4 linked regions of the Homo sapiens genome follow. The protein of the gene in region 1 interacts with the protein of each later gene in a pairwise test. Each region holds a gene or a part of one and is shown in the gene's direction. Other genes may lie near its edges.

Region 1 (7,654 bases):
TATTTTTATTGCACATTATAGGTTTTTATCTTTAGAAGTTTGATTTGGGTCTTTTTTATATGTTTCATTTCTCCACCAAACTTTTAGATGTATCAGATATGGTTGTAATAACTTTTAAATGTCATTGCCTACTAATTCTGTTGTGACTATTTCAGAAGTCTATCAGGATTAGTTTTTAATGTAATTTCTTGGATTATGAATTACTGGTCCAAGTAGATAGTATTAATTTAAACTCTATACTTAATGATGCAAACTATGATTATAAATTTTTAGAAGACATTTCTACTACCACTTCAAAGCTTAGGCAAGGACCATAAGATTCTTTGTTATCTCTCTTTGTTCATGAGATTTTTAAAAAATTTATCCTTTCATGATTGGATGAGTGTATGTGTGTGAGAAAAGTCTCTGTTCCTATTCCTTGTTCCTGTAATATGCCTCCTGCATATTATAATTCTGCTTTCTCAGATATCAAGACTTACAACTCTTCACCATTCCCACCCCTGTTGGCCAAAGCATCAGCTGAGGTCCTCAGTCCAAACCAATGCCTCTGGTTTTAGTTTCTTGTTTGGTTTTGGTACGTGGGTACACTTTCCTGTGAGTTAAGTATTTAAAATGATGTCGAATATTATATCTTATTCTAAATTTCTAGATTCTAGTTTATATTATTTGCTACATTGCCCTCAACTGAATTCTGCGTAATATTTATTGTCTTAAACTTATTGTTGTGAGATATTAATATAGCTGTGCCATTTTCCCTTTCCCTTAATACTTGTCTGATATATCTATTTTCCATTCTTTGACTTTCAATACTTGTGCTTTCTTAAGTTTCAGTAGTACCTTATAAGCATCTAACATTTTCTTTCCTTCCTTCCTTCCTTTCTTTCTCTTTCTTTCTCTTTCTCTCTCTCTTTCTTTCTTTCTCTCTCCTTCTCTCTCTCTTTTTTTTTTTGACGGAGTCTCATTCTGTCACCCAGGCTGGAGTGCAGTGGCATGATCTTGGCTCACTACAACCTCCGCCTCTCGGGTTCAAGCAATTCTCCTGCCCCAGCTTCCCCAGTAGCTGGGATTACAGGTGTGCGCCACCACGCTGGGCTAATTTTTGTATTTTTAGTAAAGACAAGGTTTCACCATGTTGGCCAGGCTGGTCTTGAACTCCTGAGCTCAGGTGATCTGTCCACGTTGGCCTCTCAAAGTGCTGGGATTATAGGCATGAGGCACTGTCCAGTCACTTCTAACATTTTTTCTGCGTAAATTTTAGAATCATTTTCACAAGTTTTAAAACAAATCCTATAGGGGTTTTATTTGGTATGACGTTGGACTTATGGATTAAATAAAGAAAACTACCCTTCCTACTGAAGGATTACCTGTGCCTTTCCATTTACACAAGGGGTTTTCATTGGTTTAGTCCCCAAATGTTTAAAATTTTCTTGATATATGTCTTATACATTTATTAGTAAACTTATTCCTATATATGTTTGGTTGCTTTGAGAATAAGACCTTGCCCTACCCTAGTACATTTCTCCACATAGATTAAATGATTTATTCACAGAACTCACAACATCAATAAGTAGGTAAAAATTTTGTAGCCTGAAAACAGCCTTGAACTCCTGGAATGAACATCAACCAGACAGTTGTTTTGCCACAGTTTTCATGAGAAGAAGCAGGCAAAGCCATCTTTACTCTGTCCTATTAAAACTGGAAACAACAAGAAATATTTTTTCTTTTTTGAGACGGAGTTTCGCTCTTGTCGCCCAGGCTGGAGTGCAATGGCGCTATCTCAGCCCACCACAACTTCCGCCTCCTGGGTTCAGGCGATTCTCTGGCCTCAGCCTCCCGAGTAGCTGGGAATACAGGCATGCGCCACCACGCCTGGCTAATTTTGTATTTTTAGTAGAGACAGAGTTTCTCCACGTTAGTCAGGCTGGTCTCGAACTCCCAACCTCAGGTAACTCCCCCCACCTCAGCCTGCCAAAGTGCTGGGATTCCAGGTGTGAGCCACCACGCCTGGCCAACAAAAAAGATTTTTTTTAACATGAGAAGATTGTCAGCTTTCCCTGGTGGTCAGAGAGGAAGGGCTTTAGAGAGGTCTTGGGGCTGCAGGGACAAAGGGTGCAGGAGAAGAAGCCTTAGAGCTGAGCAGGAGGAAACTGACACTACATGGCTGCAGGCCCAGCATGGAAATGAACTTCTAGAATGCTGTAGTCGAAGAGCCAGCTTAATTTTTTAACTCTTGTGTTGTGTGATTTTTCCATCCTTCCTCATTTCTAGGGGTATTAGTTAGGCTATGGGCTTGGAAATTAATTTGAAGAACCCAAATAAATGTGGTTTAAATTTGATGAAAGTTTATTTCTCTCTCATGTATCATCAGAAAGTAAGCCATCTGGGGCTGATATAGCAGCTCTGTGCCTCCTCCTTTTAGTTGCTCTGTCATCCCCAGCAGCCACACCCTTATTCACATGGTCCAAGATGCTCTGATGCTCTCCCTTGTCAACATTCCACCTGGTCGATGAAGGTTTGGGGGCAGGGAGGGCATGTCCCTTGTCTTTAAGGACACAGCATCACATTTTCTTACAGCCTGTTTGCCAGAAGTTGGTCACATGGACACACTTTGCCTTAAAGAATGCTGGGAAATGTGTGCTTTTTCCCTGAGCTGTCATGTCCCTTGCTAGAGATTCTGTAACCTTATAAGAATGGAAGAACAGGGGCTGACAGACAAGAACTGATCTCCATCTCTCCAGACCTACCATAGAGCTTTTGAAACTTGGTTTGTGCATTATTATCTCATTTTTCTGATATGTCTGAAGTAGGAGTAGGAGCTTTGTGGTTATTTAGAGAGCTTTATTTTCTCAACTGTAAAATTAGGCAATGGGTTTATGATGCAAACATTTGGGGCCAGCATTTATGTGATCTGATTCCTTCCTATTTCTTTCAACAAGTCCTCACTCCTGATTTCTGACCCTAGAAAGAAGTGAAAACCAGAACTTATTGACAAGAGCAACGTAATCCCCAGCTATTACTCTGCCCAATCATTTTCTTAATGAACTCATTTTGGAAAACAGTGAAGATCAGGGTCAGGGCAAGGCAGAGAAGGGCACCTGGCCATGGTCACTGTCAAGGTCCAAGGCATAAGACATATCCTACCCTTGGGGACACACAAAGTAGGCTTCTGCCTAAGAGTTAGGGCTGGAGCCTTTGGACCATTGTCAACAACAAATGTTTATTGCTCTCCTTCTTTCTGCCAGTTATTCTCTAGCTGAGGATGATGATGTTGAACAAGATAGATACAGTGTCTGTTCCCTGCAGCCACCAGAGAAGACAGACATATAAATAAACTATCACCATTAAGTAAGTACACAGTGCTGTGATGGCACATAAATGAGTGTCCTGCCTTATTCTGGGTGATGAGGGAAGGCTTGCTTCCCATGCAAAATGGGATTTGAGCTCACACTTCCAGTAACAGTCAAGATGGAGGGTAGGAATGGGAAGGGAAGGGCATTCTAGATTTAGAGAACAGCATTTTTAGCATGTAGGGCTGAGGTAGAGTCAGGGAATGAATGGGAGTGATAAGAAGCCACAGAGGCAAGTGGGAGCCAAATACCAGTCTCCAGTGCAGCAGCGTTGGATGGATCAGAGCTGGAAGGAAGAAAAGCCCACATTACCAGGGTTAGGGGGTGTGTGAGGGGGTGGGGATTTTAAGGGTCGTCCAATCCAGTGGCATTTAGTACTGTCTCCCTTCCCCCAGGGCTCATTTTGGAATTTTATGGTAGGTATTTTGTTATATTTGGTGTCAGTGGTAACATTGCTACTAGCGTTGTGGATAGGAGCCAGGATCCTGCAATGTACAGGACAGTCCTGCCCACTGAAAAAATGTTCACACTTTCAAATGTCTTGCTGAACATTCAGGTAGGTGAAAATTCTATTTCTAAATTATCTGAATCTAAACCTGTTTTCTGGATAAACATGTATTTTTGCACAGTTTTAACATACACTGATCTTCCAGGAATGTAATTATTGTATAATCAAGAGACGATTGTCCTGTGTTTCATTCAGAACTTCACGAAAACATGTTTGCCATTTTGGATCATAATTTTGTGACTTTTGCAACAATGTAAGTCACAGCTTTGTGGCTGTGGCACTCAGACAACGTCTATGTGTAAAGGCGACCACCTTATTAGGTCTCCTGCAGCAGCCAAGACCAAACACATTGAAGTATGTGTTTTTAAACGACAGATGACGGTCCTCTTTTTTTTCTCTTTCATTACACTTAAGGCATAACATTAGTTTTTAATATGTAGGTGTGTATGTTATGTATGATTTTCTAGGCCATTATATATGAATATCAGGTCAGGAGAATAAGATGGACATTACAAACTATTTGTTAGAAAAAGGGGGCATTGGGTGTGACAGCGCGCCATCCACTGGTCCATTTCCAAGACTCCCACACGTGGCTGCACCTGCAGCTTCACCTCCCCGGGCTGGGTCCCCGCTTGGCTCTGATTCTTACCTGCCCCATTCCCCAGGGGTAACAGTCACCGTGGGCCAGACCCGAGCTAGCCGACAGGGATGCGGCCACAGCTGGCCGGGCGTGACCACCACCGAGGCGCAGCGACCTTGCTCCTAGAGAGGCCCGGCCGCCTGGTGACGCACTTCCGGCAGCGCCGGGGAGCAGTCCGCTACGGAGGTGAGTGCAGGGCTCCGGGCGCTGTGTGCCGTGCCCTGTCCCCCAGGCTCTGGGTCCGGTTGAGACGCACTCCCACCCTGGGTGCTGCAGGGTCTCCCGTGGCCTACGCTGCCAGGAGGCCCAGGCTGGGAGAGGGAGCAGGGCGGCGGCCCGGGGTGCTCTTCCGCGCTCCTCGACTCCAGCTTTGGTCTTTGTGGCTCAATAGCTTGCGCCCATTGGAAGGGGAAACGCACGTTGCTGTCCCAGCCACGAGGCCCTGAGCATTTAGCACTTGGTCGACGGGGGAAGATGTGTCGGTGCAGCTAAAAGATGGAATATTTGCGGGCGTGAAGCGGCCCGAGGTGATACCACAAGTCTTTTGACATGCTGAGGTCTGGCAGGAACATTAACCTATGTGCATCCCGAGTATGGACCGTGTGCTCCCAGGCTCCTGACATAGGGTCATGAATTAGGGCCGAGTGGGAGCGCAGAGCCCCTCCCAGTCACCCGGCAGCAGAAGCAGCCCGGCTTTTGGAGGACATTGTCTCCTGGAGCAGTGTCAGTCCCAAAAGGTAACTCAGCCCTGCTTCTCTCGGCTCAGGGTTGACAGTGACCTGGGAATGACTTCTACAACGTAATTACGAATTCACTCAGTTTTAGAATATATTTAGTAGTCTCAGAATCGCTAATTCATACCCCCATGAAAAGCAAATTTACTACCTAAAGTACAGTACTTGGATACAGGTCTTTTTGTCTTTACTCTTATGGTATTTAGTCAAAATACTGTTTTCCAAAGTTGCTTACCCCTTTTCTTTCCTACCACTTAAGTGTGGTTATGTTCACTGTAGTATAGTTAAGCACATTGGCTGTTCTTTGTATTACATTTTGGGTCCTCAATTTCACCCCATCCTTGCTGGTTTATATATTTATTTAAAATATATATTTATATGTTACATATATAGTAGTAAACATCCATGAACACACCACCCAATTAAGAAAGAGAAGATTGCCAGTACTGCTGAATTTATCAATGTGTTCCTCCTCCTCAACCCAACTCCCAGCCTCCAACCCCTAGAGGTAACAGTTATATTGACTTTTGTGTTAATTGTAGCCCTGTTATTTTAAAAAATAATTACATATGCATGTATCTGTAAGCAATGTACTTAAATTTTTTTTTTGAGCTTCATATAAATGGCACCATTGTGTGTATAAGTCATCTGGGACTCGCATAATTCAATGTTAAGTTTCCAAATTCATTCTGTGTGTAGCTTCTGGGTAATGTTCCATTGTAAAAACTGTATGAAAATTTATCGATGTATTTTCAATGGACATGTGGGTTGTTTTCAGTGTTTTGTTATTAAAATGTGCTGATAATATTTTTGTACGTACTTCCTACATATGAGAGTTTCTCTAGTGTGTAAGTTTTTAAAATTAGGCACAAATGTTGAATTATGTTAAACATCTTTGGCATCTGTTGAGATGGACAGTGTGTTTATCTTTCTTTGATTTATTAATGTGAAAAATATACTAATTAGTATCTTCGTGGGATAATCCTACTTACTCATGATGTATTTAATGAACTATTGGAGTCTATTCCTTGATAGAATTTTTGCATTAGAATTCATAAATGAGACTGGTCTGTAGTTTTTGCATCAGTATTGTGCTGGCACCATAAAAAGAATTGGGAAACTTACTTTGCTGTGCTCTGCTACGGTTTACATAGTGTTAGAATTACTCATTTCCGAAACATTGAAAGAATTTGCTCATGACACATCTGAGCTCAGTGTTTTGTGAGAGTTAGTTCTTCACTGGCCATCTTGGTTTAATTAGGTAAAAGTAATCAAGGATTATGTAGAAAATCTATATAATGTCATAACAGGAAAAAACCTGGAATCGTATTTAAAAAAAAAAACTATCCCCTTGGGAGGGAGCCAAGAGACCAAAGAATGCCTTGGACGAGTCCAGCTTGGCAAGTAGATGAGTTTATTAGGACTTACATACTTACTCCTGGATGGCAGCAGGACAGCTTTAGAGACCTGTGATGCCCCTCGTCTCTAAGTACTTTTTAGAGAATTTTCTGGCTGTTTGCCTACTGCATTTAAACGATGAGACTTTTCTTGGTAGGTTCTCATATACTTTCTAGGATGTTTACGTTCTTGCAAACACCTGCTCCTCTGCTGAGCCCCATGGTCTTGACTCACTGCCCGGTCTTCAAGGTTCAGGCAGCAGGTATACACCCTTGACTAGCTGAGCGGGGTAGCTATCACACTACATATGTAATTGGTAGAGTTGGTTTATTATCTAAAAATGGAGTTGTATATTCTCCCATCACAGAATAAGTTTTCTCTTTAAACACCAGATAATATATTTTTTTAAATGGACATGAGTCACAAAAAAACCCTGAAAAATGTGTAAAGTAGAAGTTAGTAGATTGGGTTATATAACCATCATGCAATAAAGCCAGAACTTATAAACAGAAGAAATTAGCAACAGTAAACTATCCTAAGCAATTACTAGGTCAGAGACAAAACAGAATTGCTGACTGACTATAAAACAGTAATTAAAACATGAAATATAAAAACCTCTGGAATGTGGCAAATAGTGTATCCCAAGGAAAATTTGTGGCCTTATAGGCTTTAATTGCCAAATAGGAAGAATGAAAATAAATGAATAAGTCATGCAACCTCAAGAAGGTGGGAAAAAAGCCTTTTGTAGTCTAAGCTTCCCCAAAAGCAGAACGTGGAACAAAGATTTGTATGTAGGAATTTATTTAGGAATATGGTCACAGGGGCAGAGTGAAAGACAAGGGGAGTGAAACAGAGATGGGAGAACTGGTACAAGGATGCATTGGTATGCTCGGCCCTCAACAGGCTCTGCCTTGCAGGGCGTTTGAGGAGCCTTGGAGTCTTAAGGCTGCCCCGCTGGGGGATCGACGGGGAAAACATTTATCCATTGGTTTCTCTCCCCTATTGGTCAAGGGGGTCCCACAGGTGT
Region 2 (7,026 bases), on another chromosome or scaffold:
CTGTATTTTGTATTTCTTAACCTACCTTTGGCTATCTCTTTCTTCCCCCTACCCTTTTCTGCTTCCAGTAAGCACTATTCTGCTCTCTCCTTCTATGAGATTGACTTTTTTAGCTTCTTCATATTCATGAGGACATGCAGTATTTATCTTTCTGTGTCTAGCTTATTTCACTTAAAATAATGTCCTCCAAGCTCATTCATGTTGCCGTGAATGACAGAAATTTGTTCTTTTTTACAACTAAATAATACTTCATTGGGATATATAGCACTTTTTTTAATCCATTCGCCTATTGATGGAAACTTAGGTAATTTCATATCTTGGCTATGTGTTGTGAGTAGTGCTGCAATAAACATGGGAATACAGATATCTCTTTAACATACTGATTTCCTTTCCTTTGGATATATACCCAGTAGTGGGATTGTTGGATCATACGGTAGTTCTATTTTTAATTTTTTGAGGAACCTTCAAACTGTTTTCCATAATGGGCATATATATGCATATATTCCAAATAACATATAAGAGTTTGTGTTTCACCAAATCCTTGTCAGCATTTTTTTTTTGTCTCCTTGGTAATAGCCATTCTAACTGGGGTGAGATTATATCTTCTTGCGGTTTTGATTTGCATTACCCTGATGATTAATGACATTGACCATTTTTTGTACCTACCTGTTGGCCATTTGTATGTCTTCTTTAGAGAGATGTCTATTCAGCTTATTTGTCTGCTTTCTAATGTGATTTTTTATTTGCTATTGAGCTCATTTTATATTATGAATATTAAACTCTTGTCAGATGAATAGTTTGCAAATACTTTCTCCTGTCCTGCAGGTTGTCTTTTTTCTCTGTTGACTGTTTCCTTTGCTGCGCAGAAGCTTTTTAGTTTGACATAATTTCATTTGTCTATTTTTGCTTTGGTTGTCTGTGCTATTGAGGTCTTATCCATGAAATTTTTGCTCACACCAATACCCTGAAGTATTTCCCCTATGTTTGCTTCTAGTTGCTTCATAGATTCAGGTCTTATATTTAAGTTTTTAATCCATTTTGAGTTGATTTTTACATGTTATGTGAGGTAGAAATACAGTTTCATTTTTCTGCATATGAATATTCAGTTTTCCCAGCATCATTTTTCAAAGAGACTGTTCCTTCCCCATTAAATGTTCTTGGCAGCTTTGTTGAAAATCATTTGGCTGTAAATATGTGAATTTATTTCTGGGTTCTCTATTATGCTCCATTGTTCTATGTCTCTATTCATATGCCAATATCATGCTATCCGGGTTACTATAGTTTTGAAATATATTTTGAAGTTCAAAATGTGATTTCTCCGGCTTTGTTCATTTTGCTCAGGATTGCTTTGGCTATTCAGGGTCTTTTGTGGTTTCATATAAATTGTAGGAGTTTTTTTCTGTTTCTGTGAAGAACATCACTGGTATTTTGATAACATTGCATTGAATTGGTAGATCACTTTTAGTAGTATTGTATTAATTTTTACAATATTAATGTCTACAATTCATGAACATGAGATATCTTTCCATTTTTTGTGTCTTCTTCAATTTTTTTTATCAGTGTTTTGCAGTTTTTATTGTAGAGATCTTTCACCTCCTTGGTTAAATATATTCCTACATGGCTTTTTTTGTAGCTATTATAAATGCAATTTGTTTCTTGATTTTTTTTCCACTAGTTTGTTTTTGGTGTATAGAAAAGCTACTGGTTTTTGTATTCTTTTTTTTTTTTTTTTTGTATCCTCCAACTTTACTGAATCTGTTTATCAGTTCTGAGATTTTTGGTGGAGCTTTTATGATTTTCTATATAGAAGCTCTTGTTATTTGCAAATGAGGACAATTTGACCTCCTTTTCAATTTAGATGCTCCTTATCTCTTTCTCTAGCCTAAGTGCTCTGCCTAGGGCTTCCAGTACTCTTTTGAATAAAAGTGAGATGATTGTCTTCCAAATCTTAGAAGAAAAGCTTTAAACTTTTCTCCATTCAGTGTGATATTGGCTGTGGGTTTGTCATACATGGCTTTAATTATGTGGAAGTACATTCCTTCTATACCTAACTTGTTGAGAATTTTTATCATGAGGGGATGTTGAATTTTTCTCAAATACATTTTCTCTATCTCTTGAGATGATCAAATTGTTTTTGCCCTTCATTTTGTTGATGTAATGTATCACATTTATTCATTTGTATATTACATCCCTGAGGTAAATCTTACCTACATGGTGAATAATCTCTTTAATGTGCTGCCAGATTGGTTCACAAGTATTTTGTTGAGGATTTTTGCATCTATGCTCATCATGTTCATTGGCTTATAGTTTTCTTTTTTTGTTGTTGCATCCTTGACTAGTTTTGGTATCAAGGTAACACTGGCCTCATAGAATGAGTTTTAAAGAATTCCCTTATCTTCAATTTCTGGAAGAATTTGAGGAGAATTTGTATTAGTTCTTCTATAAATCTTTGGTAGAATTCCAGAGTGAAGCTGTCATATTCTGAGCTTCTTTTTGATAAGAGACTTTTTATTACAGACTTAATGCCATTACTTGTAATTGGTCTGTTCAGGTGTTCTCTTTCTTGTTGGTTCACTTCTGATAGATTGTTTGTGTCCAGGAATTTACCTATTTCTGTCAGGTCTTCTAAAGTTTTTGGTATATAGCTGTTTATAATAGTCTCTGATAATTTTTTGTATTTCTATGGTATTAGTTGTAATGTCTCCTTTTCATTCCTGATTTTATTGGGACCTTTACGTTTTTCTTGGGTAGTCAAGCCAATGGAATGTTGATTTTGTTTATCTTTTCAAAAAAATTCAGCTTTCCATTTTGTTGATATTTTGTATTTTTTAGTCTTAATTTTATTTATGTATGCTTTTCTTTCTTTCCTTCTAATTTTGGGCTTGGTTTACTCTGCTTTTCTAGTTTCTTGAAGTGCATCATGAGCTTGTTTATTTGATATCTTTCTACTTTTTTGATATAGGTGTTTGTTGCTGCACACTTACCTTCTAATACTGCTTTTGCTATACCCCAGATGTTTTGGTATTTTGTGTTTCTATTTTCATTTGTTTGAAGATATTTTAAAATCTTCCTCTTAATTTCTTCATTGACTAATTTGTTATTCAGGAACATGTTGTATAATTTCTATGTATTTGTACAATTTTTAAAGTTCCTCGTTATTTTGATTTCTAGTTTTATTATATTGTGGTCAAAAATTGATATGATTTCTATTAAATTTGTTAAGATTTGTTTTGTGGTCTAACGTGGTCTATGCTAAAGAATGTTTCATTTTCTAATGAAAAGAATATGTATTTTGCAGCTGTTGAATGAAATGTTCTGTAAATGTCTGGTAGGTTCATTTGGTCTAAAGTGCAGTTTAAATTAAATGTTTCTTTGTTAATTTTCTGCCTGAATGATCTGTCCAATGCTGAGGGGTGTTGAAGTCCCCAGCTATAATTGTACTGAAATCTATTTCTCCTTTGGGTTTAATTATTTGCTTTATAAATCTGGATGTTGTGGTATTGGATGTGTGTATGTTTACAATTGTTACATCTTCTTGCTGAAGTGAAAATAACCTTGTCTCTTTTTGTTTAAAGTCTGCTTTACCTGATATAAGTATAGCTATTCTCCCTTGCTTTTGGTTTCCATTTGTATGGATTTTTTTTCCATCCCTTATTTTTATTCTATATGTGTCTTTTTAGGTGAAGTGAGTTTCTTTTAGGCAGCATATACTTAGGTCTTTTTTTTTTTTAATTCATTCAGCTAGTCTATATCTTTTCAGTTGGGAATTTAGTCTGTTTACAGCCAAGGTTATTATTGATAAGTGAGGACTTAACATCCACCATTTTGTTGTTTTCCTGTTGTCTTGTATATCTTTTGTTCCTTTCTTTTTCTCTTATAGTTAATCATTGTGGTTTGGTGGTTTTCTGTAGTGACAAGGTTTGATTCTTTTCTCTTTCTCCTCATATATCTGCTCTACCAATGAGCTTTATACTTTTGGTGTGTTTTCATGACAGTGATTTTCACTTCCAGATGTAAGTGAAAATCACTTAAGCATTTCTGGTAAGGCCAGGTGAGTGGTGACAAATTCCTTCAGTTTTTGCTTACCTCGAGAAGGCTTTATTTCTTCCTAATTTCTGAAGGATAACTTTGCTGGGTATAGTATTCTTAGCTAGCAATTTTTTTTCTTCTTTCACCATTTTGAGTTTATAACTCTATTCTCTCCTCGCCTGTGAGGTTTCTGTAGCAAAATTTACTAGTCTAATGCAGTTCTCTTATGTGACTTGACAATTTTCTCTTGCTGTTTTTAGAACTCTCTGTCTTTGACTTGTGACAATTTGCCTATAATGTACCTCTAAGAGGACCTTTTTGGGGTTGAATCTATTTGGGGAATTTTGAGTTTCCTGGAGCTGGATGTTCAAATATCCCTCCTCCACAACCCCCACCACTAAATTGGGAAGTTTTCAGTTATTATTTTATTAAACAGGCTTTCTATACTTTTTCCTTATCTTCTCCTTCTGGAAATTCCATAATACAAATATCTGTTTGTTTAATGTTTTCCAATAAGTCTTATAGGAATTCTTCACTCATTTTCATTCTTATTTCTTTTTTCTTTTCTCTGACTGGGTAACTTCAAAAGACCTAGCTTTAAGTTCAGAGATTCTTTTTTCTGCTTGATCAAGTCTGCTGCTGAAGCTCTCTATTGTATTTTATATTTTATTCATTGAATTCTTCAACTGCAGGATTCTTGTTTTGTTCTTTTTATGATTTTTATCTCTTTATTGAATTTTTCATTTATATTGTGAATTTTTTTCTTATTTTATTTAATTGTGTATCTGTGTTTCCTTGTATCTAATTGAGTTTCCTTACAATCATTATTTTACATTTTTTTGGCAATTAATTGATTTCCTTTTAATTGGAGTCTGTTACTAGAGAGTTATTATATTCCTTTGTTGGTCTCTTATTTCCTTGCTTTTTCATGTTTCTTGTGTCCCTGCATTGATGTCTGTGTATCTAGTGAAATAATCACCTTTTTCAAACTTTCTGGAGTGATTTTCATAAAGAAAGTCTTTCATCCTGCAGTTGAGTTTTACTGTGCAGTTAGAAAAGGTGTAGTGACTCTGTTTCCAGATAGGTATAGAGATAGAGTCTCTGTGCAGCTTCTTCAGTTGTATTCAAGGTCAGGAATAACTGTGGGTGCCTCATAGCCTACGCTTAGAGGTTTGTGGCAATGGCACTGGCAACATAAGTTTTTAATGTTCTTTGTGTTAAGGGCTTCTGGGGTCCTCCTATTCTGGTTTTCTCTAAAATAAGGAGACTTAGCTGAGCGCATCCCTTTTGGTGTCAAGTCTGACATGGCCTACAAGCAGCTGCAGTGGCATGGGTTCTACGTGCAGTGATCAGGATTCTACATGCAGTAGGAGTTTTCAGCTCAGTATCTCATAAAGCTATTGAGGCAACTGGGCTTGGGGTGCAGCTTCACCCCTTGTGGCAGGGTTGGATGTAGGTTACCCATAGAGCCAGGATCTATGATTCTGAGGGACCCCCTAGCAGCTCAGGCTCAGGGTGCCAGGTTGTAGCTGTGATTCTACCCCTGGGGGGCAGGGCACAGCACTGGCCTGACTCCAGGGAATAAGGAGTGCTCTGGAACTTTGGCCTTGGGAGCAGGGTATGGCTGCAATTCAGAAACCTGAGTCAATAGGGCTCAGTGTCAACTCAGGTTCCAAGGGATGAGGCACTGGGTAGTAGTGATTGTAGACCCTGGGATAGTGGTGCTCAGCAGTATCCCAGAATGTGTGGGGCCAAGTGTATTTGCTTTCAGTACTCCAGAATGGTGGAGGACAGCTGTTGTTTGTTCCCTGGGTGACAGGTGGGTAGGAAAAAACACAGCAATGACTCCACTCCCTAGATAGAGGGGTACTTCTGCATCTGAGACTCTAGAGAGCTAGGCCAGTGCTGGGGAATCGAAGTCTAAAATTGTTCAGTTTATAGAGCAAGGTGTCTCAGCTCAGTTTCTGCTCAGCTCAGCCAGAGCACTAATTCCCCAAGGGACAATGTGCCACTTCAGCTCAGGCTTGAAGGATGTGACTGTTCTGGGCTGCACAAGCACTGTTTTCTTGGGATGCGGGGCATCAGTTCAGCTTAAGTAATGGAGTGCATGACTGCTCTGGATGGCCAAGGCACAATTTCCTAGGATGCAGGGCACCACTTCAACTTAGACACCAGGGAGACATGACTGCTCTGAATAGCCAAGGTACTGTTTTCCCAAGAGACAGGATGCTGCTTCAGCAGGGGCAGGGGGAGGAGTTGGTAGAGCAATTCCACCTCCACTTGACCCCACAGGAAAAAGTGTTAACAGCTGTTAACAGCACATATTGGGGATGTGGGGCTCTGGGGATGGGGTGGTTCAGGGGTGGTTTAGTCTCAGGGATGAAGGGGAGCCATGACTACTTACTCCTTGAGTAAGGCTCAGTCTAGCTGTAGTTCCTGTTCCAAGATGCCATAGCCAATAGTCACATGGGCCACAGCAGGTGGGGCACAGTGTCAACTCCTTCTCTGGCTAAGCACAGCTATATAGACTCCAGGCAGCTTCACCATGTGGGCTTGGTGCCTAAGAAGACTGCAGAGAACACCAGTGGGAAGGTCTGTTGGTGTCCAGGGTGTTGATGGAGATTGTTGGAGTCATCCTGCTTACCTCCTCACCATAAGAAGTTCCTCCTGGCTTCCAGCTGATCCCACTTGGGGGATGGGATGGTGAAGGCCTGGCATTTCCTTATTCTCTATGTAGCCATCCTGAGTTTTTGTGCTCACCCAAGTTTCTATTAGTTTTAAAATGCAGCTGCTTTTCCATTGTTCTGGCTGTCTTTGACAGAGGCATAAGCACTAGGGGCTTCTAGTTGGCTATCTTGCTGCTATCTCTCTGACCTTTAATACTTTTAGAAAGAAGATTAACCGTTCTCCTGATCAAGGTATCAAACTATTTATTATCTTTGACAGTACCAAAAAGTCATACATACATGTAATTCATTCATTCATATTTTCATTCAT
Region 3 (7,026 bases), on another chromosome or scaffold:
GGGATGAAGCCCACTTGATGATGGTGGATAAGCTTTTTGATGTGCTGCTGGATTTGGTTTGTGAGTATTTTATTGAGGAGTTTTGCATCAGTGTTCATCAAGGATATTGGTCTAAAATTCTCTTTTTTTGTTGTGTCTCTGCCAGCCTTTGGTATCAGGATGATGCTGGCCTCATAAAATGAGTTAGGGAGGATTCCCTCTTTTTCTATTGATTGGAATAGTTTCAGATGGAATGGTACCAGCTCCTTCTTGTACCTCTGGTAGAATTCGGCTGTGAATCCATCTGGTTCTGGACTTTTTTTGGTTGGTAAGCTATTTATTATTGCCACAGTTTCAGAGCCTGTTATTGGTCTATTCAGAGATTCAACTTCTTCCTGGTTTAGTCTTGAGAGCGTGTATGTGTTGAGGAATTTATCCATTTCTTCTAGATTTTCTAGTTTATTTGCGTAGAGGTGTTTGTAGTATTCTCTGATGGTAGTTTGTATTTCTGTGAGATCGGTGGTGACATCCCCTTTATCATTTTTTATTGCATCTGGATTCCCTCTTTTTCTATTGATTGGAATAGTTTCAGAAGGAATGGTACCAGCTCCTCTTTGTACCTCTGGTAGAATTCGGCTGTGAATCTGTCTAGTCCTGGACTTTTTTTGGTTGGTAAGCTATTAATTATTGCCTCAATTTCAGAGCCTGTTATTGGTCTATTCAGAGATTCAACTTCTTCCTGGTTTAGTCTTGGGAGGGTGTATGTGTCCAGGAATTTATCCATTTCTTCTAGATTTTCTAGTTTATTTGCATAGAGGTGTTTAAAGTATTCTCTGATGGTTGTTTGCATTTCCGTGGGATCAGTGGTGATATCCCCTTTATCATTTTTTATTGCATCTATTTGATTCTTCTCTCTTTTCTTCTTTATTAGTCTTGCTAGTGGTGTGTCAATTTTGTTGATCTTTTCAAAAAACCAGCTCCTGGATTCATTGATTTTTTGAAGGGTTTTTTATGTCTCTATTTCCTTCAGTTCTGCTCTGATCTTAGTTATTTGTCTTCTGCTAGCTTTTGAATGTGTTTGCTCTTGCTTCTATAGTTCTTTTAATTGTGATGTTAAAGTGTCGATTTTAGATCTTTCCTGCTTTCTCTTGTGGGCATTTAATGCTATAAATTTCCCTCTACACACTGCTTTAAATGTGTCCCAGATATTCTGGTATGTTGTGTCTTTGTTCTCATTAGTTTCAAAGAACATCTTTCTGCCTTCATCTCGTTATTTACCCAGCAGTCATTCAGGAGCAGGTTGTTCACTTTCCATGTAGTTGTGCAGTTCTGAGTCAGTTTCTTAATCCTGAGTTCTAATTTGATTGATTGCACTATGGTCAGAGAGACAGTTTGTTATAATTTATGTTCTTTCACATTTGCTAAGGAGTGCTTTACTTCCAACTATGTGGTCAATTTTGGAATAAGTGTGATGTGGTGCTGAGAAGAATGTATATTCTTTTTATTTGGGTTGGAGAGTTCTGTAGATGTCTATTAGGTCCACTTGGTGCAGAGCTGAGTTCAAGTCCTGGATATCCTTGTTAAGTTTCTTTCTCGTTGATCTGTCTAATGTTGACAGTGGGGTGTTAAAGTCCCCCATTATTATTTTGTGGGAGTCTAAGTCTCTTTGTACATCTCTAAGGACTTGCTTTATGAATCTGGGTGCTCCTGTATTGATTGGGTGCATAGATATTTAGGATAGTTAGCTCTTCTTGTTGAATTGATCCCTTTACCATTATGTAATGGCCTTCTTTGTCTCTTTTGATCTTTGTTGGTTTAAAGTCTGTTTTAGGCCAGGCACGGTAGCTTACGCCTATAATCCCAGCACTTTGGGAGGCCGAGGCAGGTGGATCACGAGGTCAGGAGTTCAAGACCAGCCTGGCCAAGATGGTGAAACCCTGTCTCTACTAAAAATACAAAAATTAGCCGGGCATGGTGGCACTTGCCTATAATCTCAGCTACTCAGAAGGCTGAGGCAGAGAATTGCTTGAACCTGGGAGGTGGAGGTTGCAGTGAGCCAAGATCGCACCACTGCACTCCAGCCTGGGCGACAGAGTGAGACTCTTTCTCAAAAAAAAAAAAAAAGTTTGTTTTATCAGAGACTAGGATTGTAACCCCTGCTTTTTGTTGTTGTTGTTTTCCATTTGCTTGTTAGACCTTCCTCCATCCCTTTATTTTGAGCCTATGTGTGTCTCTGCATGTGAGGTGGGTCTCCTGAATACAGCACACTGATGGGTCTTGACTCTTTATCCAATTTGCCAGTCTGTGTCTTTTAATTGGAGTATTTAGCCCATTTACGTTTAAGGTTAATATTGTTATGTGTGAATTTGATCCTGTCATTATGTTGTTAGCTGGTTATTTTGCTCGTTAGTTGATGTAGTTTCTTCTTAGCCTCGATGGTCTTTACAATTTGGCATGTTTTTGCAGTGGCTGGTACCAGTTGTTCCTTTCCATGTTTAGTGCTTCCTTCAGGAGCTCTTTTAGGGCAGGCCTGGTGGTGACAACATCTCTCAGCATCTGTTTGTCTGTAAAGTATTTTATTTCTCCTTCACTTACGAAGCTTAGTTTGGCTGGATATGAAATTCTGGGTTGAAAATTCTTTTCTTTAAGAATGTTGAATATTGGCCCCCACTGTCTTCTGGCTTGTGGAGTTTCTGCCAAGAGATCTGCTGTTAGTCTGATGGGCTTCCCCTTGTGGGTAACCGGACCTTTCTTTCTGGCTGCCCTTAATATTTTCCCTTCATTTCAACTTCGGTGAATCTGACAATTATGTGTCTTGGAGTTGCTCTTCTCGAGGAGTATCTTTGTAGCGTTCTCTGTATTTCCTGAATTTGAATGTCGGCCTGCCTTGCTAGATTGGGGAAGTTCTCCTGGATAATATCCCGCAGAGTGTTTTCCAACTTGGTTCCATTCTCCCCGTCACTTTCAGGTACACCAATCAGATGTAGATATGGTCTTTTCACATAGTCCCATATTTCTTGGAGGCTTTGTTCGTTTCTTTTTATTCTTTTTTCTCTAAACTTCTCTTCTTGCTTCATTTCATTCATTTGATCTTCAATCACTGATACCTTTTCTTCCACTTGATTGAATTGGCTACTGAAGCTTGTGCATGCGTCATGTAGTTTTCGCGCCATGGTTTTTAGCTCCGTCAGGTCATTTAAGGTCTTCTCTATGCTGTTTATTCTAGTTAGCCATTCGTCTAATCTTTTTCCAAGGTTTTTAGCTTCTTTGCGATGGGTTCAAACGTCCTCCTTTAGCTTGGAGAAGTTTGTTATTACTGATCCTCTGAAGTCTACTTCTGTCAACTCGTTAAAGTCATTCTCTGTCCAGTTTTGTTCTGTTGCTGGTGGGGAGCTGTGTTCCTTTGGAGGAGAAGAGACACTCTGATTTTTGGAATTTTCAGCTTTTCTGCTCTGGTTTCTCCCCATCTTTGTGGTTTTAATCTACCTTCGGTCTTTGATGTTGGTGACCTACAGATGGGGTTTTGGTGTGGGTGTCCTTTTTGTTGATGTTGATGCTATTCCTTTCTGTTTGTTAGTTTTCCTTCTAACAGTCAGGACCCTCAGCTGCAGGTCTGTTGGAGTTTGCTGGAGGTCCACTCCAGATCCTGTTTGCCTCGGTATCACCAGCGGAGGCTGCAGAACAGCAAATATTGCTGCCTGATCCTTCCTCTGGAAGCTTCATCTCAGAGGGGCACCTGGCTGTATGAGGTGTCAGTTTGCCCCTACTGGGAGGTGTCCCTGAGTTAGGCTACTAGGGGGTCAGGGACTCACTTGAGGAGGCAGTCTGTCCGTTCTCAGATCTCAAACTCCATGCTGGGAGAACCACTGCTCTCTTCAAAGCTGTCAGACAGGGACGTTTAAGTCTGCAGAAGTTTCTGCTGCCTTTTGTTCAGCTATGCCCTGTCCCCAGAGGTGAAGTCTACAGAGATAGGCAGACCTCATTGAGCTGTGGTGGGCTCCACCCGGTTCGAGCTTCCAGGCTGCCTTGTTTACCAAATCAAGCCTCAGCAATGGTGGATGCCCCTCTCCCAGCCTTGCTGCCACCTCGCAGTTCGATCTCGGACTGCTGTGCTAGCAGTAAGCAGGGTCCATGGGTGTGGGACCCACCGAGCCATGCATGGGATATAATCTCCTGGTGTGCTGTTTGCAAAGACCACTGGAAAAGCACAGTAGTAGAGTGGGAGTGTCCCGAGCACTAGGAAAGGGAATTCCCCGACCCCTTGCGCTTCCCAGGTGAGGCGATGCCCTGCCCTGCTTTGGCTCACACTCTGTGGGCTGCACCCACTGTCCAACAAGTCCCAGTGAGATGAACCTGGTACCTCACTTGGAAATGCAGAAATCACCCATCTTCTGTGTCGCTTACGCTGGGAGCTGTGGACTGCAGCTCTTCCTATTCGACCATCTTGGAACGATCCCCTTTTTTTTTTTTTTTTTTAAGTCAGAGTTTCACTCTTGTCCCCCAGACTGGAGTGCAATGGCAGGATCTCAGCTCCCTGCAACCTCCACCTCCCAGGTTCAAGTGATTCTCCTGCCTCAGCCTCCCTGAGTAGGTGAGATTACAGGTGTCCATCACTACATCCAGCTCATTTTTTTTTTTTTTCAGTAGAGACGGGGTTTGCCATGTTGGGCAGGGTGGTCTCGAACTCCTGACCTCAGGTGATCCACCTGCCTTGGCCTCCCAAGGTGCTGGGATTACAGGCATGAGCCACCACACCTGGCCTAGTTTTTGTATTTTTAGTAGAGACAGGGTTTCACCATGTTGACCAGGCTGGTCTCAAACTCCTGACCTCAGGTAATCCACTCGCCTCAGCCTCCCAAAGTGCTAGGATTACAGGCATGAGCCACCACACCCTGCCATTTTGAAAATCTTTTTAAAAAATAGGTGAATTACACTGGGCGTGGTTGCTCACACGTGTAATCCTAGCACTTTGGGAGACTGAGGCAGACAGATCGCTTGAGCCTAGGAGTTACAGACCAGCCTGGGCAATGGTGAAACCCCATCTCTACAAAAAATACACACACAAAAAAAATTAGCCAGATATGGTGGCACGTGCCTGTATTTCTAGCTACTTGGTAGGCTGAGGTGAGAGGATCAACTGAGCCTGGAAGGTCATGGCTTCAGTAAGCCATAATCATGCCACTGCATTCTAGCCTGGGCAACAGAATGAGACCCTGTCTCAAAAATAGAATAGAACAGTATAAATAAAATAGATGAGTTAAAATCTTTTACATTATTGATATGACTGTTATGTCACATCAATAGTTATAATTACTTTCTGTACTATGTGATATTTGTTGTATTTCTTCATTTGATCAGTCTTCTTTGCTTTTTAACAAATTTCTTTTGGCTTTTATGAAAGTTTATTTTATTTTAGTTGTTACCTTTCTATTAATATGATTAACAATGCCCTTAATCACCTTTTTTCTCACTTAATCTTTTACTCTCAGTTTCAAATGGTGTCCTTTGACTGACACCTATTATCTAGACAACAGACATCACATTGAATTTACTTTCCTCTAACCACTGCTCTGTTTCCTGCCTCTCTAGTTTTGCCTTTCCCAGGTTGTCATGTAAATGGAATCATACAGTATGCAGCCTCTAGTGGTTGACTTTCACCCAGCATAATATATTTCAGATTTATCCAGGTTGTTGCATGTATTAGTAGTTGTCACATATTCCTTTTAACTGCTGAGTAGTATTCCATAGTATAGATGTACCACAGGTACTTTTTTTTAATGATTATAGTCTTGGCCATACACAGTGGCTCCTGACTATAATCCCAGAACTTTAGGAGGCTGAGGTGGGAGGATCATTTGAGGCCAGGAGTTTGAGACCAGCCTGGCCAACGTGGCAAAACCCCATCTCTACTAAAAATACAAACATTAGCTGGGCGTGGTGGCGCATGTCTGTAATCCCAGCTACTCAGGCGGCTGAGGCATGAGATTTGCTTGAACCTGGGGGCAGAGGTTGCAGTAAGCTGAGATCATGTCACTGCACTTCAGCCTGGGTGACAGAGTGAGACTCTGTCTCCAAAAAATAGTAATTAAAAAATAAAAATAGAATGATTATAGTCTCACAAGTAGTTGCAAAAATACCACAGACAGTCCCACATATCCTTACCCCAGCTTCTATAATGGAGTATCTTACAAACTGGGATATTGACATTAGCACAGTGTGATTAACTAGTCTAAAGGCCTTATTCAGATTTCACTAGTTTTTAGATGCACTCATTTGTTTGTATGTGTATATATATATTTTTTACAATCCACACACAGCACAACTATGATCAAGATGTGAAGTTGTTCCATCAGCACCAAAGAATTCACTCCCTCATTATGCCTATTTATAGTTGTAGCCCTGACCTTCTTCATCTCCCTGTCTCCTGGGAAACACTACTTTCTTCGCCATCTCTATAATTCTGTCGTTTTGAGATAACCTTTTCAGATTAACTTTTCTCATTCAGCATAATGCCCGTGAGATCCATCCAAGCTGCTGTAAGTATCAATAGTTCATTCCTATTTATTGTTGAATAGTATTCCATGGTATGAATGTACCAGTTTGTGAAAACTGAGTGAAAAAATATATTGTTTTTTGTTTTCCTTCATAGAAATGAAGAAAAATCTTACGTTTTGCTGAAGTGATACACTTACTAGAATAAATTTGTTACACATGTTGAAAAAGTTGAATTAAAAATATTAATCAGCATGATTTTTTCTCTTATAGGAATCTTTGCTACAGAGATTTCTGACACCTGAAATGATTCTTCACATCCCTGAGAAAGGTCAAAGTTACAAACTGATTTTTTTTTTTTTGCTACATGAGTGCATTTATCTTTTAAATGCTTGGCAATGTTAAATGTATTTATTAACTTTGTGTCTCTGAATCTCTGTTCTAATGTGCCATGTTGCAGTGATCTGAGATGACTTATAAAAACAAAAATGTATATGGCTCTTTCTATCCATGCAGTGATAGTGAGTGTAAAATCTGCTTACTTCACTATTGAAC
Region 4 (7,026 bases), on another chromosome or scaffold:
TTAATTTTTTATTAAAATTTCATTTTTTTCTTGCTAATTTTTAACAGCTTTTATATATTAAAAATACATTTGTGATACTCTATAGTTTTTACTTTTTTTTTTTTTTCCGAGACAGGTTGTCACTCTGTCACTCAGGCTGGAGTGCAATGGTACAATCTTGGCTCACTGCAGCTTCCACCTCCTGGGCCCAACCTTTCCACGCACCTCAGCCTCACAAGTAGCTGAGACTACAGGCTCGCACCACCATGCCCAGCTAACTTTTTTGTATTTTTTTATAGAGACGAGGTTTTGCCACGTTGCCTGGGCTTGTCTGGAATTCCTAGGCTCAAGTGATCCACCTGCCTCCGCCTCCCAAAGTGCTGGGATTACAGGCATGAGCCACCAGGCCCAAACAGTTTTTACATTTTTGTCATTTGTCTTTTCAACCTTCAAAACAATCTATCTTTTTCTTTTATGATTTCTTTTTTTTGGTGTTATCCTTAGGCCTCCATCTTACTAGGATTATATAAATAGTCATCTATATATTCTTCTGTTCTTTTTATGGCTTAATTTTTTACTTTGGAGTATTTGACGATATATCTGAAATGTACTGGATGTATCAATGTATTTGAAATGCCTTATTGTACATGAAATACTTATAAACTTGCTTTCATTTCTGGACTTTTTGTTTTATTGATTTCTTTGTTATGAAGACAAGGCATTGTTTTAATTAGGCTAACTTTAAAATGCATTTTAATATTTAGTTACGCAAAACCACCTTCATTTTTCTTTTTTTCAAAAATCTCTCAGTTCTTTGTGCATGATTATTCTCCTGTATGGGATGTAGGATCATTTTATCAAGTTTCCTTGCAAAAATTCCTATGGGGATTTTAATTTATATGATTAAATATGTAGAGTAGTTTGTGGACCATTGATGTCTTCCTTTCTGGAATATGGTATTTTCTACATTTACGTAGGTCTTCCCTTATGTCTGTCTCTAAAATTTGTAGTTTTTCCCATATTGTTCCTGTGTATTTCCTGGAAGTATAACACTTAGTATTTTACATTTCTTTTTTTTTTTTTGAAACGGAGTCTTGTTCTGTCGCCAGGCTGGAATGCAGTGGCGTGATCTCAGCTCACTGCAACCTCCACCTCCCGGGTTCAAGCGATTCCCCTGCCTCAGCCTCCCAAGTAGCTGGGATTATAGGCACATGCCACCACGCCCAGCTTTTTTGTATTTTAGTAGAGACAGGGTTTCACTCTGTTGGCCAAGATGGTCTCGATCTCCTGACCTCGTGATCCGCCCACCTCAGGCTCCCAAAGTGCTGGGGTTACAGGTGTAAGCCACCGCACCCAGCCAGTATTTTACATTTCAGTTGCTAATATGAAATGAATCATTTGTTCTAATAGTTTTTGATAATGTAAGAAAGTTAGTGATTTTTGTATATTTATTTTGTAACTGTCCATCTTATAAGACCATGCTAAATGGATTTTCACTATAGAAGGTTCCGTCAGACAGCAATGTGTAGGAAGGATTAAAGATATGATAATGGCAATAAAACAATTTATGATTATATAGCTATAATTCAGATTAAAAGTGATAAGAACCTTAAAGAATGTAGCAATGAAGAGGAAAATATTGATGGGTTCTGGAAATAAAGTGGTGCAATTGAGAATTTGATTCTTAATTGTGTGTGTGCATGAGGAAATGTCAGATGGTTTTCTGATTTGAGCAATTTAATTTACAGTAGTGGTTTTACCTGAGATTTGAATTATAGGAAGGAAAATGAACATGACATAGTGTTGGTGATGGTGAAGAGATGATGAATTCTGTTTAGGGCATGTTTAATTTGAGAGCATCAAGGTGAAAATTTGATAGGCTGGTGAATAATGGATTTGGAGTTTACAAGTAATGCCTGAACTAGAAATAATAATTGGATGAGATAATGTACAGGAAATGTGTAGAGAATATGACAGGATAGAACCCTAGGGACCACTGGTATTTAAGAGATGGACAAAAAAGGTAACCTGGTGAGACATTGAAAAGCTGGGATGGAGAATCAAAGCCAAATTGCAGGCTTGGCGTGGTAGCTCATGCCTGTAATCCCAGCACTTTGGGAGACCAAGGCCAGAGGATTGCTTGAGACCAGGAGTTCAAGACCAGCCCTGGCAACTTAGCAAAACCCTATCTATACAAAAAATTGAAAAATTAGCCGGGCGTGGTGGCATGTGCCTGTGGTACCACCTACTTGGAAGCTGAGGCAGGAAGATCACTTGAGCCTGGGAGGCTGAGGCTGCAATGAGCCATGATCATGCCACCGCACTCCAGCCTGGGTGACAGAGTCAGACCCTGTCTCAAAACAAAAACAGACAGACAAAAAACACTACCAACAACAACAAATACCCAGAAATTTATTTAATTGTCTGGAAGTAGAAATGGGGACCTAGGAAGTTGCTGCTGCTCTGCTGCTGCTATATGTGGGCTCCACAGATTCCATCCACAATGGAATAAGGAAAATAGAACTTTGCTATAAAGGTACTTCAATGCAAATGTAGATGCAGATTGAACCTTTAGGTGAAACAACAGATTTGATGAAGCTCGGATCGACCTATCCTGTTTGGGAATGGAGAGTGGGGATTAATACAATTTAATATTCAAAAATTGGTGTATCCATTCAGCCAAGTGATATCCACGTGCCTTCCTTCTTTCTCCAGAGTTGGCCCTTTGACCTACCCTTCCCTGCCTCAATCTTAACTGTATTCAAATACTAGAAGGCTAATCTTCCTCAGAGCCTTTTAGTTATGGAACAGAATCTTGATTTTTATCATCAGATATACATATCATCAAAACATTTGTCCTCAACAAATTTGGTAAATGTGCCTTCACCCAGATTATTGATATAAATTTTGACTAGTTCAGGATGTCTCAAGCATCTGAAGACCAACCATGCTTTGGCATAATTCCTCTCTGGTGACACTTGTTAGCACAGTCTAGGTGATGGCCTCCCCTGATTTTGTTCACTGATGTCTTTTTATAATACCACTTTCCCTCGTACAGAGAGAGAGATTGTGTGTTTGTGTGTGTGTGTGTGTGTGTGTGTGTGAGACATTTGTACTCTCTACCTTCTTTATTCAAATTTATCTTCTTGTTCCCTCAACACAGAAGCTGTGTCTAGTGAGTCTGCTTCAGTCACACAGATATTCTAGTTTTAGTTCCTCTTCATGCAGGAATACATGTCTCAGTAAAAAATTAAAACTTTGGATTTAAACAGTGTTTAATAGTATCTTATCCAAAATAAATAAAGTGTAACTAATGCATACTATTGCAGAGAGCATATCCCAGGCATTTAAAACGTAGGAATTCTCATTTTAGTGTTTCTTCTTTTACTCTGAGGATTGATTCTATTTACCAAATGCTTCTAGTAAAGGATATATGAGGTTCCAAACAGAGATCTGTAGCATCAGGGATGTTATATTTGTGTAGTGTCAGCTCCTGTCTCTGGGAGTTCTGAGCATTCTTGTGTGTGTTGATGTAACTGAACCTGAAATTGCTTTTCCATGATAATGTATTTTATGTTTCAGGAGACAAATTACATGTTTGTCATAGGGACAGTGGGAAATGTCAATAGTAGGAACCCTGCTTTTTGATGATGATAATGACTCCCGACCTTCATCTGGGTGATTTGCTGTACCCAACGGCCATCAGTAATTGAAGCCAAGTAGCCAGGCACAGTGGCACCTGCCTGTAGTCCCAGCTACTCAGGAGGCTGAGGCGGGAGGATGAGGCAGGAAGATCTCTTGAGCCCAGGAGTTCAAGGCCAGCTTGGGCAATATAGAAAGACCCTATCTCATTTTTAAAAATAATTAATTAATTTTGTAAAAGGAAATAAATTTTTTTAAAAATTGAAGCCCAGTGAGAAGTTTATGTATTTCTAGACATTGTATCTGTTGACAAAATATGTAAGTATTTGATAGAAATTTTTGCAATAATGAAAATAACTACCATTATTGAGTACTTAATAGATAGCTGGCTTTGCAAAACCCCCTGTGTATTATCTCTTGTAATCCTCCTTTAAGTCAGGTACTCTTACTGTCCCCATCTTACAGTGAGGAAGCTGCATTTGACAAGGTCACACAGCTAATGGGTGGGAGTTTGGAGAGTGGAGTTGTGGATCTCAGACTCAGGACACTATCTCCTTTGGTTCACTCAGTTCAACAGTTTGGTTTTTTGTTTTTATTTTATCTAATTGTCATTGAATCTACAAATCTGTCTTATAGGAACAAGTGGTGATGAACTTGGACAGCAGGCTTCTGATCTTCCCTTTATATATCTGCTGTAACTTCTTGTATATATCACCAGAAAAAAAGAATTGAAAATAATCGTCACCCAGAAAATCCAGAAAACTGAAGATTTCATCAGTTGGAAACAGTAGCACTTTGAAAACTTTTTAGGCCAGCTTTAATTTAATGGCCCTACTGATATTCACATCGAAGGTGACTAACAATGACAAAGGCCTTATGAACTGTACAGACAATACAGAAGATTATTCTTATCCTCATTGCATTTCTATGCATATGCGTAAGAACATTTTAAAGCCAAGAAAATATCTGTCAAACCATTTCTGTTAGAACGATGTCAATTCATGCTTTTAATTTAGCATCAATAGAAAATTGCTGTAGGTAAATCTCACATTTATCTGCAACAAAATATAGATTTAATTTTTAGCTTAAACTTTGTTTCTACCTTATGTTAGTGGACCTCAGTTATCCATCTGTAAATTTCTTTTTATTTGGCTAAAATAATCTAAAAGAATAATTTGGTTGGCCAATTAGAAATGCCTTTTTCAGTTGGTGTATTGAAAGCTTTCCTTTAACATTTTCACCTGCTCATTGTGATTCCTCCTTTTAGTCTAATATCTTTCCAGGTCATACTTGTTTTTAATCATTAAATATTTTCTTCCTGGTTTTGGAGACTAAGCTGATAAACTTTTTTTAAAACTTAAGCATTGTCATTGCTATTTTTTTTAATTTGACTTTCCTAGGAGTTTAAGAACAGTGAAAGTTAGCTTTGCACCTTCAAATGATCTTGAATGAGGGAAAAATCAGTTTGATTCCAAGGATATTTCTTGCCTTACATGGTCTTTTCTTTGACAGTCTGTACACCTTTATTATTAGGTTTTGAATTATTTATGTACCAGATATTATAGTTTTAAACATTTTAATATTCTCTGATCTTTAGAATTATTTATGTTCAAATTTTAGTTGGGAACTTTGTTTCCTACTTAAGCTCAGGACTTTTTACCCTCTGAATTGAGTGCCTTTGAGTGACACATGCTAATAGAAATTTCATAGTAAATGTAAATAAGGTCAGAGGATGTAATATGGAGCCTGATGATGAAGCATTAATGTAAAAATGGAACTTATTTTTGTCAAAAATGAGATGTACACTTGTCATGATTTATGTATGTTGACCTTTTGTGTTTATTACTGTTTTGAAAATAGCCATGTTCATTTTCTTTCCAGTTAGAGTAAGTACTTCTGTGGTTAATGTATATTTTTATTATGGTTTTTAAAATGGGAATCATTTTTATGTATCTGTGCAAATAATAAATGCCCATTTGGAAAAAGAGTAAGCTCTTACATAAAATGGACCAAAAAATCCCCCTTAATTGAAACCAAAATTTTTTCTTTCTAGTTAGGTTTTTTTCCCAACTCCTTTTAACTTTTGGAATTTATTAATAATTTTTTTCTTTTTTAATGATATGCCCATAGGTTCATAAATTGCTTTTGTTCTTTTAAAATTCATCCATTTGGTTTAACTTAAAGGAACCTTTTAAATGCCTCACCCTTGACCCTCAGAGCTGGAATTTAAATGTTTCTAATACAGTGATTTGGCTGTTATCAAGAGGTTACATTTCAGCTGGGTGTCAGCCAGGTGTGGTGGCTCACACTTGTAAGCCCAGCACTTTGGGAGGCCGAGGCAGGCAGATCATCTGAGGTCAGGAGTTTAAGATCAGCCATGACCAACATGGTGAAACCCCATCTCTATTAAATACACAAAATAAAAATTAGCCAGGCATGGTGGCACACGCCTGTCATCTCAGCTACTCAGGAGGCTGAGGCAGGAGAATCACTTGAACCCAGGAGGCAGAGGTTGCAGTGAGTGGAGATTGCGCCATTGCACTCCAACCTAGGCGACAGAGTGAGACTCCGTCTCAAAAAAAAAAAAAAAAAAAAAGAGGCTACTGTACTTATTTTTATATTTGACTACATTAGGTCTTTTTCACGGGAAGCTGTTGTTTTCTTTCCGTCTCATTACTGTATAAGAGTTTCCTTACCCTTTATGTATTGAAAAATATATAAATTCCAAACTTAAATTATTTGGATAATTAAGTTTTTGCAGATCTTGGAAGTAAAGATAATGTTTTGATCATATTAATGAATAAAGTTAACTGTTTCATTTCACTTACATAAGTTAACTGGCCAAATTGGATTTATATGTGGTTTCATCCATTGGTTCTGTCCTGGCCAAGTTGCTTATGTCATCCATAGACAGGATAATTCTTTCTTCAATCACAAGTAGGTTAATGTTCTTATTTGAGAAGTTGATAATTGTCAGGTAGTAATTCACACTGGTAGTAAAGATGTGCTTTTGTTTTCTTACCAAATATTTTTATGTGTTTCCAGAGTTCTTTTCAATAGAAATATTTTCAATAAAGTGTTAATAGTGTAAGATAAAGTATTGTATAAACCATGGTTTGTGAAAGCTTTGTGTTTTGTCAGCTTTTGTCTTACAGCCTCTACTATTTTTTTATGCTAGAGCTAGAAAACAATATTTAATTTTAAGAATGATTTGTGTTTGTCTATTAGTAAGGAAGAGGTCTTTAAGAGAATATGTCCTAGAGTTTCACACTAAGTTATTAAGAAGGGATATAAATACCTTTCCTTTAAAAAAAAATGGTTTGGCATGGAAACTTAGCAAGATAGGCAAAACCATGTGGAGAACAGTGGTAGTCACTGTTTTGTTTTGTTATGTTTTGTTTTTAA

Evidence for each region.
Region 2: the proteins of ZNF23 (region 1) and FHL5 interact in binary tests that used the Homo sapiens proteins (3 or more experiments, as listed by UniProt).
Region 3: the proteins of ZNF23 (region 1) and TSGA10 interact in binary tests that used the Homo sapiens proteins (3 or more experiments, as listed by UniProt).
Region 4: the proteins of ZNF23 (region 1) and GMCL1 interact in binary tests that used the Homo sapiens proteins (3 or more experiments, as listed by UniProt).

Annotation. Positions count from the first base shown.
Region 1 is NC_000016.10:71,459,237-71,466,890, reverse strand, and holds the start of ZNF23 (zinc finger protein 23), read left to right. Parts: upstream 1-4,643; 5' UTR 4,644-4,681; exon of another isoform or gene 4,682-5,232; intron 5,233-5,622; exon of another isoform or gene 5,623-5,737; intron 5,738-7,654. UniProt on the Homo sapiens protein: May be involved in transcriptional regulation. May have a role in embryonic development.
Region 2 is NC_000006.12:96,566,110-96,573,135, forward strand, and holds part of FHL5 (four and a half LIM domains protein 5), read left to right. Parts: intron 1-7,026. UniProt on the Homo sapiens protein: May be involved in the regulation of spermatogenesis. Stimulates CREM transcriptional activity in a phosphorylation-independent manner.
Region 3 is NC_000002.12:98,997,940-99,004,965, reverse strand, and holds part of TSGA10 (testis-specific gene 10 protein), read left to right. Parts: intron 1-6,744; coding exon 6,745-6,769; 3' UTR 6,770-7,026. UniProt on the Homo sapiens protein: Plays a role in spermatogenesis. When overexpressed, prevents nuclear localization of HIF1A.
Region 4 is NC_000002.12:69,874,652-69,881,677, forward strand, and holds the end of GMCL1 (germ cell-less protein-like 1), read left to right. Parts: intron 1-4,257; coding exon 4,258-4,353; 3' UTR 4,354-6,733; downstream 6,734-7,026. UniProt on the Homo sapiens protein: Possible function in spermatogenesis. Enhances the degradation of MDM2 and increases the amount of p53 probably by modulating the nucleocytoplasmic transport.